Regions from separate parts of the Homo sapiens genome. Here region 1 is linked to region 2. The links come from fine-mapping of genetic effects on gene expression. A gene starts in region 2. The other region holds a variant in brackets. All regions are shown on one strand. Distances are from middle to middle.

Evidence for each region. PIP is the estimated chance that this variant, and not a neighbour inherited with it, causes the effect.
Region 1: its variant is fine-mapped to the expression of ESRRB in skeletal muscle (GTEx, PIP 0.95).

The regions. Positions count from the first base shown.
Region 1 is chr14:76,308,434-76,313,807 of GRCh38, reverse strand. It overlaps LOC105370575 (a long non-coding RNA gene), which reads left to right and starts at 3,389. Exons shown (of 4, transcript XR_001750833.3): 1 at 3,389-3,983. It also overlaps a transcript of ESRRB not described here. RefSeq lists an enhancer at 3,373-3,986. The variant G/A (reference allele first, on the strand shown) is at 2,894.
Region 2 is chr14:76,373,510-76,378,883 of GRCh38, reverse strand. ESRRB (estrogen related receptor beta) reads right to left here and starts at 2,747. Exons shown (of 7, transcript NM_001379180.1): 1 at 2,433-2,747. The coding sequence starts at 2,482.

The DNA.
Region 1 (5,374 bases), 65 kb after region 2:
GAGGGACAGAAAGAGTGGGAGGATAATGAAATGTAAAAATAGAGATAAGAAAAAGATGGACAGATATACTGTAGAAGTGAAGTGATAGGGAAAAAGCTGCTCGTGGTCTTTGGTTTTAAAATCCTGCCAGCTGCCATTTTAATTGATGGGGTATTTGGAGAGGCCTCAACTATGTAAAATCGTTTGAATTAGGGGAGCACTTTCCAGGTATTTGTGATTCCCTCTTCCTGCACCTGAGCCTGCTGCATTCCAAAGCACCTGCTCATTGCCCCCACTGTCCCCAATTTGGGAGGAGGTCAGGACTGGATTCCTATGTGTTCGAGGGCGGTGGGGGGAACCCATAAAACAACAGTGCATGCACACAGGAAACTGCTCATTTACATTCAGAGAAATAAACAATGACAAGGATGGAATGGTTAGATTTTGCAGACATGAAGTCACAGACAGCCCCGTGACCAATTGCATTTAAGAAATCAGTTTGAAAAAAAAAATGAATTTGATGGGAGCTCAAACCACATAAAATTAATAGTTATTGAAGCAGAAACTAAGTAATCAGAGGCTGTCTCATGCAAATACACTGAAGTTTCCCTGAACTGCATCTCTATAACTAAGCCCGATGGGCCAAACCACACCCTGAACTTGAGGATGAAAGCCAGGCCCTCTATCACACGGTCAGACAAGCCCCTATCTCACCTGAAAGGATCTACACGTAGCCCAGGGAAGAGGCAGTTTTTAGCTAAATGTCCCAACAAAATATTCTTCTGTCTGACCATTAAGGCTCTGAGAACACAGGACTTGCTCAGGAATGCGGGACTCTCTCCCACTGCATTTAATCCTGACACACTGGGCCTGCACAGTGGGCCAGGCAGGCTCCAGTGTGCAGGTTGGGGAGGGGAGGTAGAATTTGTTCTTGTACTAAAAGGCATTTTTAAAAGCCACATTTTTTCTCAAAAGCCATTGAGATCTGAAAGTCCTAGAAGTTCAGCTTTGCCAATAGCAATCTTCTCTGATTTCTGAATGCAATGTCTCAATCACTTCATTCACTTGAGCTTTAATTAACAATAATCCACCAAATCCCACTTCAGCATTATGGTGAAAAAACCTTAGCAGGACATATTTACCAAAATAGAGGCCCTCATAATAGGAAGAATAATAATGCTATATGTATAAGACACTTTAACTCCTAGTTGGCGTTTGTCCCCCTCTGGAGTTCTTAGACTTCACCGTCTATACTAGATCTTAAATAGTGACATTTACCCCCTTGTACGCCATACTCCTTGTTCTGAATTTCTCCACTACTGAATGCGGTCTTACTGGCTGAACATGGGACGTTTGCCTTCTAATTTCTCATTGCTTCCTGATCCCCACTCTCCCGTCCAAAATAATGAATGAATGGATTAAAGATATTAATAACCCTAAACAAAATACAGCTGAAAACATGGAACCAGAAAAAGGAAAGTTAAAGTTTCAGAACAGTCAAAATAAAAATGATATCAAATTGCTTCTCTAAACATACGTGTGTATATCCATATTTATTTAACTTTCATCGAGTTAGATGAAACTAACTGGTTTCATGCTGGTAAAACTATTTTTGTTTGTAATCAATCAAAAATAATACAGGCATATCTGCTTTGTTTAATGCTTTTAAATTGTTGGAAAGATTGTTTCTTTGTAGGATATTGTTCTCCCAAACAAATCAAGGAGTCCTCAGTCATATAGCATATGGTATCCATTGGATAAATAGAAACTCATGGTTAAAAAAAAAAAAAGGTACATTTAAAAAGTTGTACTTAAGTATAAATTAGGCATCATTACTTTTTTTTTTTTTTTTTTCAAAATGTAGGGCTACTTTTCCTTTGTAAATTCTATAAAGCAAATCTTCCCAAGTACAGGATTTCGGGTGAATACTATTCAATATCCAGAAACTAAAGTCCCAAACGTTGCACGGGAAGCTCGTGGCAGGTAAGCCCCGTGGACACAGGACTGTGGCCGGGAAGGCCCCATCTAGAGCCGCCCGAGGTGCACTCAGAGCCGGCACACTATTCGAATTGTCTGAAACAAGCACAGCTTTGACAAGCCTCACGATATTAAGTTTCTTCCTTTGCGAAGGATGCAGAGCAAAGCAGTCAACAGCCCTCCCTCCACACCTGGCTTTGGCCTGGGACTCTTCCTCCCAGTCCCCAGCCAAGTTCCCTTTCAGGATTAAGAAAATACACCAAATGAGGGAGCCAATGACAGCCTGTAAGGCAGGACAAATCCTCAGCTCTCATCGTGACTTCTCAAAGCAAACTTGCTCCGCGGAGGGGAGAGGGAAAATCATTTACTTTAAGGTGCTATAGAAAACTGGTCATCGGGACTGTGGGGAGTCTCCCTGAACCTGGAAGCTCCCAGGTTGAAACCAAAACTTCCAGGAGCTCCCATCATTACCTGTCCTGTGGGCACTGGGTCTTCTTGGGTAACCTTCCCCAGCTTGCCCTACACCGGAGCTGCCAGCAAATAAAAGTTTTCACGCTGGGCGACATCGCTACCCTGCTGAGCTGCATGTAAACTTTCCCTTGCCCTTCTGATGTACTTACTTTTTTCTCAGTGAAAACAAACAAAAATCAAAGGGAACTCACTGCTTCCAAATGAGTTTGTGTCACCGTCCCACCTAGCCATCCAGAGACCCTCTGACCTTCCTGTGACAGTCTAAGAAAGGCAACGTTTTCCTCTCGGCCACACAGGGATGCTTTAGAGTGCGGAAAACCAGGATGAAAGAACAGGCATGGGGAGATATTTTTATCCATTGAGAGAGAGAGAGAGAGAGAGAGAGAGAGAGAGAGAGAGAGAAAGGGGACAGAAAAGGACCCGCAGAGTCTGGGGAGGAGAAAGGGAGAAGTTGGGTTACTCACAT[G/A]CTTGGGGCTGGCGTGGAGGACGAGGACTGGGCTGGGGTGGAATGTGCGGCCCCTCAGGTGCTTTCAGTTGCTGATAACTCGTTGCTCCGCTCCTCCGGTACCAGCTGACAGTCCCCTGTCTGTGTCTCTTTGTGACTAAGGACACAGTACTCCCAACCTATAAATAGATCCCGACTCCGTGATTGATATAACAGGCAGCTGACAAAAAAAAAAAAAAAAAAAAAAAAGTCTCACAACCATAACCAGGTCTTAAACAAAACAGCAAAAAGCTCTAGACTTCCAACTCCACCCAGCCCCATGCAGACTCCACAGCCACTGATGGACGCAGGAAAGTGTGGAAGAAAAATACACCATGAAGGGGAGGAGGAACTGGGGGAGGGCAAGTGAAAAGGGGGGATGTGTAAGACAATGACTTCTCTAGTGGTGTGCGGCCGTCACTTGGGGTCACAGGGGAGCTGGTGACTGATGGTCGGCAGAAAGCAAGGGGAGGAGCCAGGGCAGGAGGTCCTGACCTGGAGAAGGAGAGCCGCCCCCCTCCGGATCCTGAGCCCGTGGCCCTGTCAGGGCCCGAGTCAAAGTCCTGACTTGGGAGCATTCGTCAGCTCAAGTGCTTTCCACGAAAGTTTCCATTCCTCCTGCCAAATTAGGAGGCAGGGAGGGAATTCAGCTTTCCCAGCTCAGGGGCCAGGCAGGCTTCTTGGGGGCCATGCAGAAGGCTCCTGGAGGGTGAGAGAGGAAGTGCAGTTGCCTGGTGAGGCCAGGTCTTTGAAGAGGCCAAGAGATGGCGTTCCCAACAGAAGAACGGCCTGAAGTTGAAAGGCCCTGGGGGTGTTAATGTCTCTGCTTTCTCCAGAAAGATTTAGGACGTCAAGTCGTCTGAAAAGATTTCCTTTTTGGAGAACAAGCCCCGCTCTTTGGGGTACCGGAGGGTCTCTAAGAAGCACTGCCTGTCCCAGTTTCTACAAAGTTGGGGCCGCCTCTCTGGGATAGGCCAGTCCAGCTCTGAAAGCTGAGCCAAGGGGCTGTTTCTGGAAGTTGGAAGAATCATGGTGAAACGGCACAAGTATGGGCTGTTCAACAATTAACCAGGTGAGCATGCATTACCCCAGGGGGCTTCCCATCTGCCATCTGGAGACCCACTTGCTTTGACTACACAGGGTCACCTGTCTTGATTTTCTGGATTTCTTGTGCATGCTAAATGAGGCAGAATTTCAGGTGAGTTTCCCCTTCAAGAGGGGTCATAGGATGAACCCCTTGCTGGTATGGATAAGGGACAGGTACTTCATAATCCCTAAAACTTCCTGATCCCCAATTTTTAAAAGAAATGAAGTTGAACCTCCTCTTCATGTTAGATCTAATCCTTTACTCTCCAGGTTATCAGAAACTATGAGGATGGGGTGGTATCTAAGCTGTTGAAGTCAAAAACCTATTAAACGTGTAGGGCCTCCAATCTTTCCACCAGTAGCCTGCCATTGCAATATGAGCTCCAAGAAGGTAAAGACTATGTGTTTGTCTCATTCATCATCACATCCCCATAATACCTGATCTGTAGCAAGACCCTCCTGAGTATGGATTGATTGACTGACTAATTGAATGAAAGAGTGATACTTAAGATACTGTCATTTGAGCCACTCCTTTGGACTAAGTAAGATACTCTCTAGAAATGTCTGTATCATAAGAGTGTCCCTAGGAAGGCCCAGAACTGGGAGTGAGACTTCAGGCAGATATAGTCAAACTGCTGTATTTTCACTCGCAGTTTTATCTGAGAACCACTGCCCTTCTGAGTACCAGGCCAGTGATGCCAGTGGTCAGCCACCAGGCACTCCTGTCTACTCAGGCCTGGCCACACACAGGGTTCCCTGCAAGTTTAGTTGCTGGAAAAGCAGATAACCCTGCAGAGACAGGGCTCTAGAGAGACTCCCATTCTGATGACTGGGGCTATAGCCACTTACACGCACATTCACCACCAGGCTCCTTCCCAGGGAAAAACCTTTCTCTTCTGATGCAAACTGAGGACTTCCCTCCATGATTTTCTTTCTCCTCCAACTCTTACCGAGCCCTCGCTGATCTCTGGCAGACATCCTGCAGCCCCTCCTAGGGCTTCCACAGCCCCCTAGCACAGCACCCTGTCTGTAGGAAGGGGTCAGTGTTTGGGTTGAACCCAGCCACCCCTCTCCCTAGGAAGCCCCTGTGGCACCTTTGTTTTGGCTTTTTATCTCAAGGTCGACCTCTGTATCATCTCACAGTCTGGTTCTCAACTCTGCCAACTGAACCAAGCCTTGGTGTCTGCCCCCTTGAAGCTGGCCTGGGGGCAGCAGGGGTCTGCTGGGACCAGCTGATAACCAGCGGCATTTCTCTCTGCTCACAGGGGCTCTCTCGAATGGCAGGTCATCATCTTAGGAGACCCCAGGCTTTTGCTTGCAGGAGACTCATCATGGCCTCACTTTCTCATCATAAAACCTCTCCAGCTTCAAGGGCCA
Region 2 (5,374 bases):
TGAATGGCTTTGTCCTACTATCCTTCTACCAAACCAAAGAATCCAGTCCCCTGCTCTGTTACTTTACTACCCATGGCTCTAAAGCTGTGTCACAAAGCCATGGGGTAGAGGTCAGAAAGATGTCTCCCCAGACACCAGCCCCAGACCTCCACAAGCTCGTCCTTGAAATGATGCCCCTCTGCGCCACAGCACATGCAGACCCTCCCTAGGCGGCACATATATGTATAAGAGGCCAGCTCATCAATGCCTGGGCTGCTGCCCAGTGGGTCCTGGGCTTTGAGAAATGACATCTGACAGGGGTGCTCAATTCCTCGGTGGAGACAGCAGGTATATTTTTGGCTTTTCCTGTGCCCCATGGAGGGACAAGCTAATTCTTTGCAAAAAAAAACCGGAAAGGGTTGGGGATCTAAACCTCTGTCAGGCTTAGTTTATAAATGATTTCTATCTCAAACCTTTCCCAGACCCCCAGGACCTCAGCTCCCTGACTTCCTTCTGCTGCTTCCCTGACATTGCCTTTTTGCCCATATTTCTCCTCAAACTCCAGTCAGGGCTGCCGTCAACTCGATGAATTACCCAGCTGTTAAAGCCTCCATCTCACTCCTTGCTTTCCTGGTAAGCATAATCAAAGAATGTACTTCCTTCATACGAATTTTCATATTTATTGACTATGACTTGAGCCAGGGACAAATACATAAGTATTTCGTGCTCAACTAAAGAAGTCACCTCTGGAGAGAGGGAGCCTTAATAATTTAAATATCCAATATTTGTCATACTTGATCATTTTATGTAAGGAAATGCTCCACAAGCACCAAATACTGTCCACAGCCTCACTAACCTCAGGTGCTCCCACCCCATCCCCACCCCAGCTAGAATCTAACCTTTAAAAGGAATGAAAGCCACTTTTCAAGCTGATGGAAATCGGAATCCATTATTATTAAGGATTCCTCTCCCAGACCAGCGCCTTCTGCCGACATTCTGGTGGCATCTAAAAGGCCCTCTGCCCCAGGGTGGAGTGGGGAAAATCCCCAAACTAGAAGCAGGAACAGTCTGGTCAACAACACAAGCCATGCTGTGGACAGCTGCCCTCTCTCTCAAGCGGGGTGCACCGTGGTGGAGGTGCTCCATGCAGCCAGGAGAGGGGTTAGGTACTTCCTGGGACCCCACATGATCCAGAGTATTTATTTTAGAGATGTAGTCGTGGTTCTTGGGGGGAGGGGGAGAGCGAGTGGTACACAAATGAAAGCACGGTGGAACTGGAGAAACGCTGACTTGGAGAATTTAGTTTGCGTCAGAAAAAAAAGAGGAAGACGAGCACAAAGTTAAGCAGGAAAGCTGTCCGTAAGAACCTAGAGTTTTATGTATTATTATTATTAAGCCTTCCGAGGGACCACTTTGCACGCGCACACAACCTGCCTCCGGGACACCCGCCGGGGGCGCCGTGGGGTGCGCAGCGCCCAAGGGGAGACCCGGGCAGGTACCCGAGCAGGTGGAGCGGCGACCGTGGAGGGTGTCGGGAGGGAAACCGTAGGTGGATAGAGTGGGATCCCCGAGAGCCCGGACATGACACGCGGGTTGACCACCCGCTGCTTAGGCGATCAGTTCACTTTCCCACTCTGCGCTCTTGGCGCGCTGCCCCGGGGCTGGAGACCCGCGGTTTCTGAGAGTCGCTTCTCGCGGCGCCGGCTGCCGCCCGCGCCCACGCCGCTCGGATAACCCCAGGTTCTGGCACCGCGAGCGCAAAGCCGCCTCGGAGCAGGGAAATGGTGCCCTTCTGTTCCGCTGGTCACAGCCTCCCCCAAAGCCGAGAACGAACTTTGCCTACGACGCAGCGCTGGGCCCGCATCCCCCGGGCGCCCTGGATCCGCCGCGCCACGTGCGCACCCTCGGGGCGCCCCACGGAGACCGCGAGGCGAGAGCGGCACTGGCCGCCTGCAGTTTCCAAACCGCCGCGGCACGTTCGATTTTCTCTCTCTTGCCGGGATCATTTTTGGTCCCCAGGATGGAAATAATAAAACAAAGCGCCCGCGGGAAAGGCTTTCTCTGACGGGACAGGACATCCTTGCAACCACATCCCTGCACCTGTTCTGGGCTTCTGCCTCCCTTCTTGCTCCATTCCACAAAAACTCAAATATTTTCTCACCCCGGAGCAAGATCAGAGAGGAGAGAGAAAGGGAGAAAGTGCATGAGAAAGCGCCACTCTTGCCTGAAAGTGTGGATTTGTAAAAGGGGGTGCGGGAAAAAGTTAGAGGAGGGTTTATGCCCTAGAAAGAAACCCAGAAGTGTGCGGCTTTTCCCCTCCTTCGTCCCCCAAGTGCCCCCCCGAAGTCCCTTCCACTTTTACACAAGAATGTGCAGAAAAGGAACTGCGATCCCCAGGACAGAGACTGCCAGACGGGCAGAAGGACAGACAGACCGAGAAGCAGGGCACCTACTGGTTGTGGTAGCCGAGGGGGTCCGGGATGCAGAGTTCGGACACGTCCATCAGTCCCGTTTTAGCATTCCCAGTTGGTAGAGAAAGACGGCGGGGAAATCACGCGGAAGAGCGAGTGAAGGGCACGGGCAAGGTGCGAGCCCGGGCAGGGCACAGTGAGCGCGAGAACGCAGAGTGGGAGGAGGCGGCCGCGGCGGGGGAGAGGGAGGCAGAGAGCCGTGCGCGCACAGCCCAGCTCTCCACTCATCCGCACGCTCCGGAGAGAGCGGGCAGAGGGGATGCGAAGCCGTGGAGGAGGCTGGGGCACAAGAGACTTGGAGCCCACTAACCCTACTGTAGCTTTAAGGCTGGGAGACTGATGTATAGTTTGGCTCCTATTGGCTATCTCTCAGGGGCTGGACTTAAAGTGACAGAATCAAGCTGGGGTGGGGGGAGGGGGTGAGACAGAGAGACTTCATGGAATGAGACGCTCAGCGCGCGAGGTCCCCACCTCCTGAGCAGTAGGAGTACTGGGTGTTAGAGCCCTAAGGCCTGCCTTCTCGCAGTTAAAGGGGGGTGGGGGGGAATGTCCAACCGCCAGGTGGGTCTGGGGTGGGGGGAGATTTATTGCTTACATACCCCCCGGGCCACCCCTATCCCATCTTTTAACTGGCAGGTCTAGCAAACTCACCTCTCAGCCTTTCTGGAATGGATCTGTTTTCCAAATTAAAAATGAGTCACATTTCTCCACCCACGCACCAAAGAGAAGAGGCAGCCTCAAACCCTGCGCTGTGTGCGCAAAAGTGCAAAGGGTCAGGCCAGCAGGTGAGGCACAGCAAGAAGGCAGGAGAGAAACAGATTCCCTTCCCAGTTCTCATCACCTGGGCCAGTCAGTTCTGCACCACTCTCATATGGCTAGATGCAGGGTGCGCATCTATAAAACGTTCTCTCAATGTATGAAGTGATGCTCTAGTCATTGGCAGCTCTCTGAAATGTACCCAGGACACAGACATGAGCAAATAAATTCCTGTCTGCTTAGGAAAATACAATCGTGGTGAAAATGATCAACTTACCCGCCACATCCACTCCAAGGCACAAGTACACACTTTGAAATACACACCTGAATCCCCAGCTACAAACGCACCTGCATCCCCGTCCGCTGCTCCCTCAGTGAACCCGAATATTATGGGATGCCACTGTACCAAAATGAGCTGTAAGTCATGCCCCAGCCCTGCTTCTGGGTTTTTCATCTTTTGAGATGCACCAGCCACAGGGATAATAATCAATTTGATGATTCAAATGAGTGTGGGGAGGGGGGTAGGTATAGAATTATTTAAAAGGGGGGAAAAGCCCTCAGGAGACACCACCACCTTATTCTCCTATATTCTGCAGAAGACAATGAGCAGTAGGGGGGAAGACATAATTTTATCATCAAAATAATGTCTAAATGGAGTGTAACTGCAGGCAATGTTCAAGCACTTCAGGAATAAAGGCAGGGAGGGTTGTGAGAAACCCCAGGAGGGGCCAGCCGCCTGGGCAGGGGCTGGGAGAGTGGGCAGAAGGATCGCAGATGATTTTTGACTTGGATAAATGTGCTCGTGCAGGTTGGGAAACAGAGCTGAGATTTTTCATATGTGCTGAAGTGGAGGAACAAGTGGGATTCTCTGGGCGCAAGGCTCAGGAAGGCATCTCACAGAGAGATGGATGAAGATGTCTCCTCTGTCAGTAGCCCCCCAGCAGCCCCCGATTTTTAAAAATCACATAGGTACTTCATCAGAGACAGAAAGAGGGGTGCAGGGATGCTTCCCTTGAGCCTGGCTTCTATATGACCATCATCTCTCACCAGGACCTCAGTGACTGGTTTTTCGGCATCCTTTCTGCCCTGCTGAAATCCATTCTCCAGGCACACAGCAGCCAGGGAGCGATTTGTAAAATGCACATCCAATGTCCCGTTGTTGCAATTAGGAAAAAGGCCCCAGTCCTTGGCCTCCAAGGAAGGCATCCTATGACAGCTTCCTGCAGGTCCCTCTGTTCCTCTCCACAGCCCCTGCTGCTTTCCCTCTGGGCCCCAGTCTTTACATCTGCCACCTAGAAGGCCCCACCTTCCATATAGTGCCAGAATCTTCTGTGGTTCCTTTGCTTTGGGTAGTTTATCACAGTTTGCAATTGTCTGTGTACTGGCATGAGTGATAATTCCCTCCTCCACCCTTCCCTCACTAGACTGTAAGCTCCATGGGAGTAGGGACCATGTCTCTTTTTGTTCACCAGAGAATCTCTAGCATCTAAAGTTGCCTGATACATAACAGTTGCTTGATGAAGATTTTGCTGAATGAATGGTTAACCTGTAGGAGTTTGGAGTGGGGTGCCACAGCCTGCTGAGTGACAGGCCGCTGCCCAGGAAGAAGGTGAGGCAGTGATGGGTTGTCTGGGGCCCCTTGACTCCTTACTCTGTGTGGGTGCACCGTTTTTAACTGGAAACAAGACACACTTGGTAGAAATAAGGTCCTCTTCATGGTCTGAAAAGAAAGACCACATCACAGCCCAGAGCAATGGATTCAAAGCCACTGGGAGCAAATGAGGAGAAAGTGGGGTCTGCATTGGTTAGAACACTAGGCTAATGCTTGCCTACTATTATTCTCTGCCTCTAAGGTTCAGGCATGAAGGTGAACCAGAGCCTTATCTCTGGGCACTAGCTGATTGTCCTCCAGGCAGGAATGAACTCCTAGAGACCTAGGCCTTCTCAGCCTTCCTCTGCCTGAGCCTCCTCTCACACAGCCCTGGGGCCAAGTTCTTTCTCATTTCCTTTCTGACTCTGCAAGAGGAGAGATGAGGGCCAGCCGCCGGGACACCCTAGTGGCATGATCCAACTTGGCAGGCCCAGGCTCCTCCTGTGATTCTCCAGACAAACTTGCCTAGGTCCCACACTGTGCATGGGGCCCACATTTTTCCCATTCTGCCCTCAGC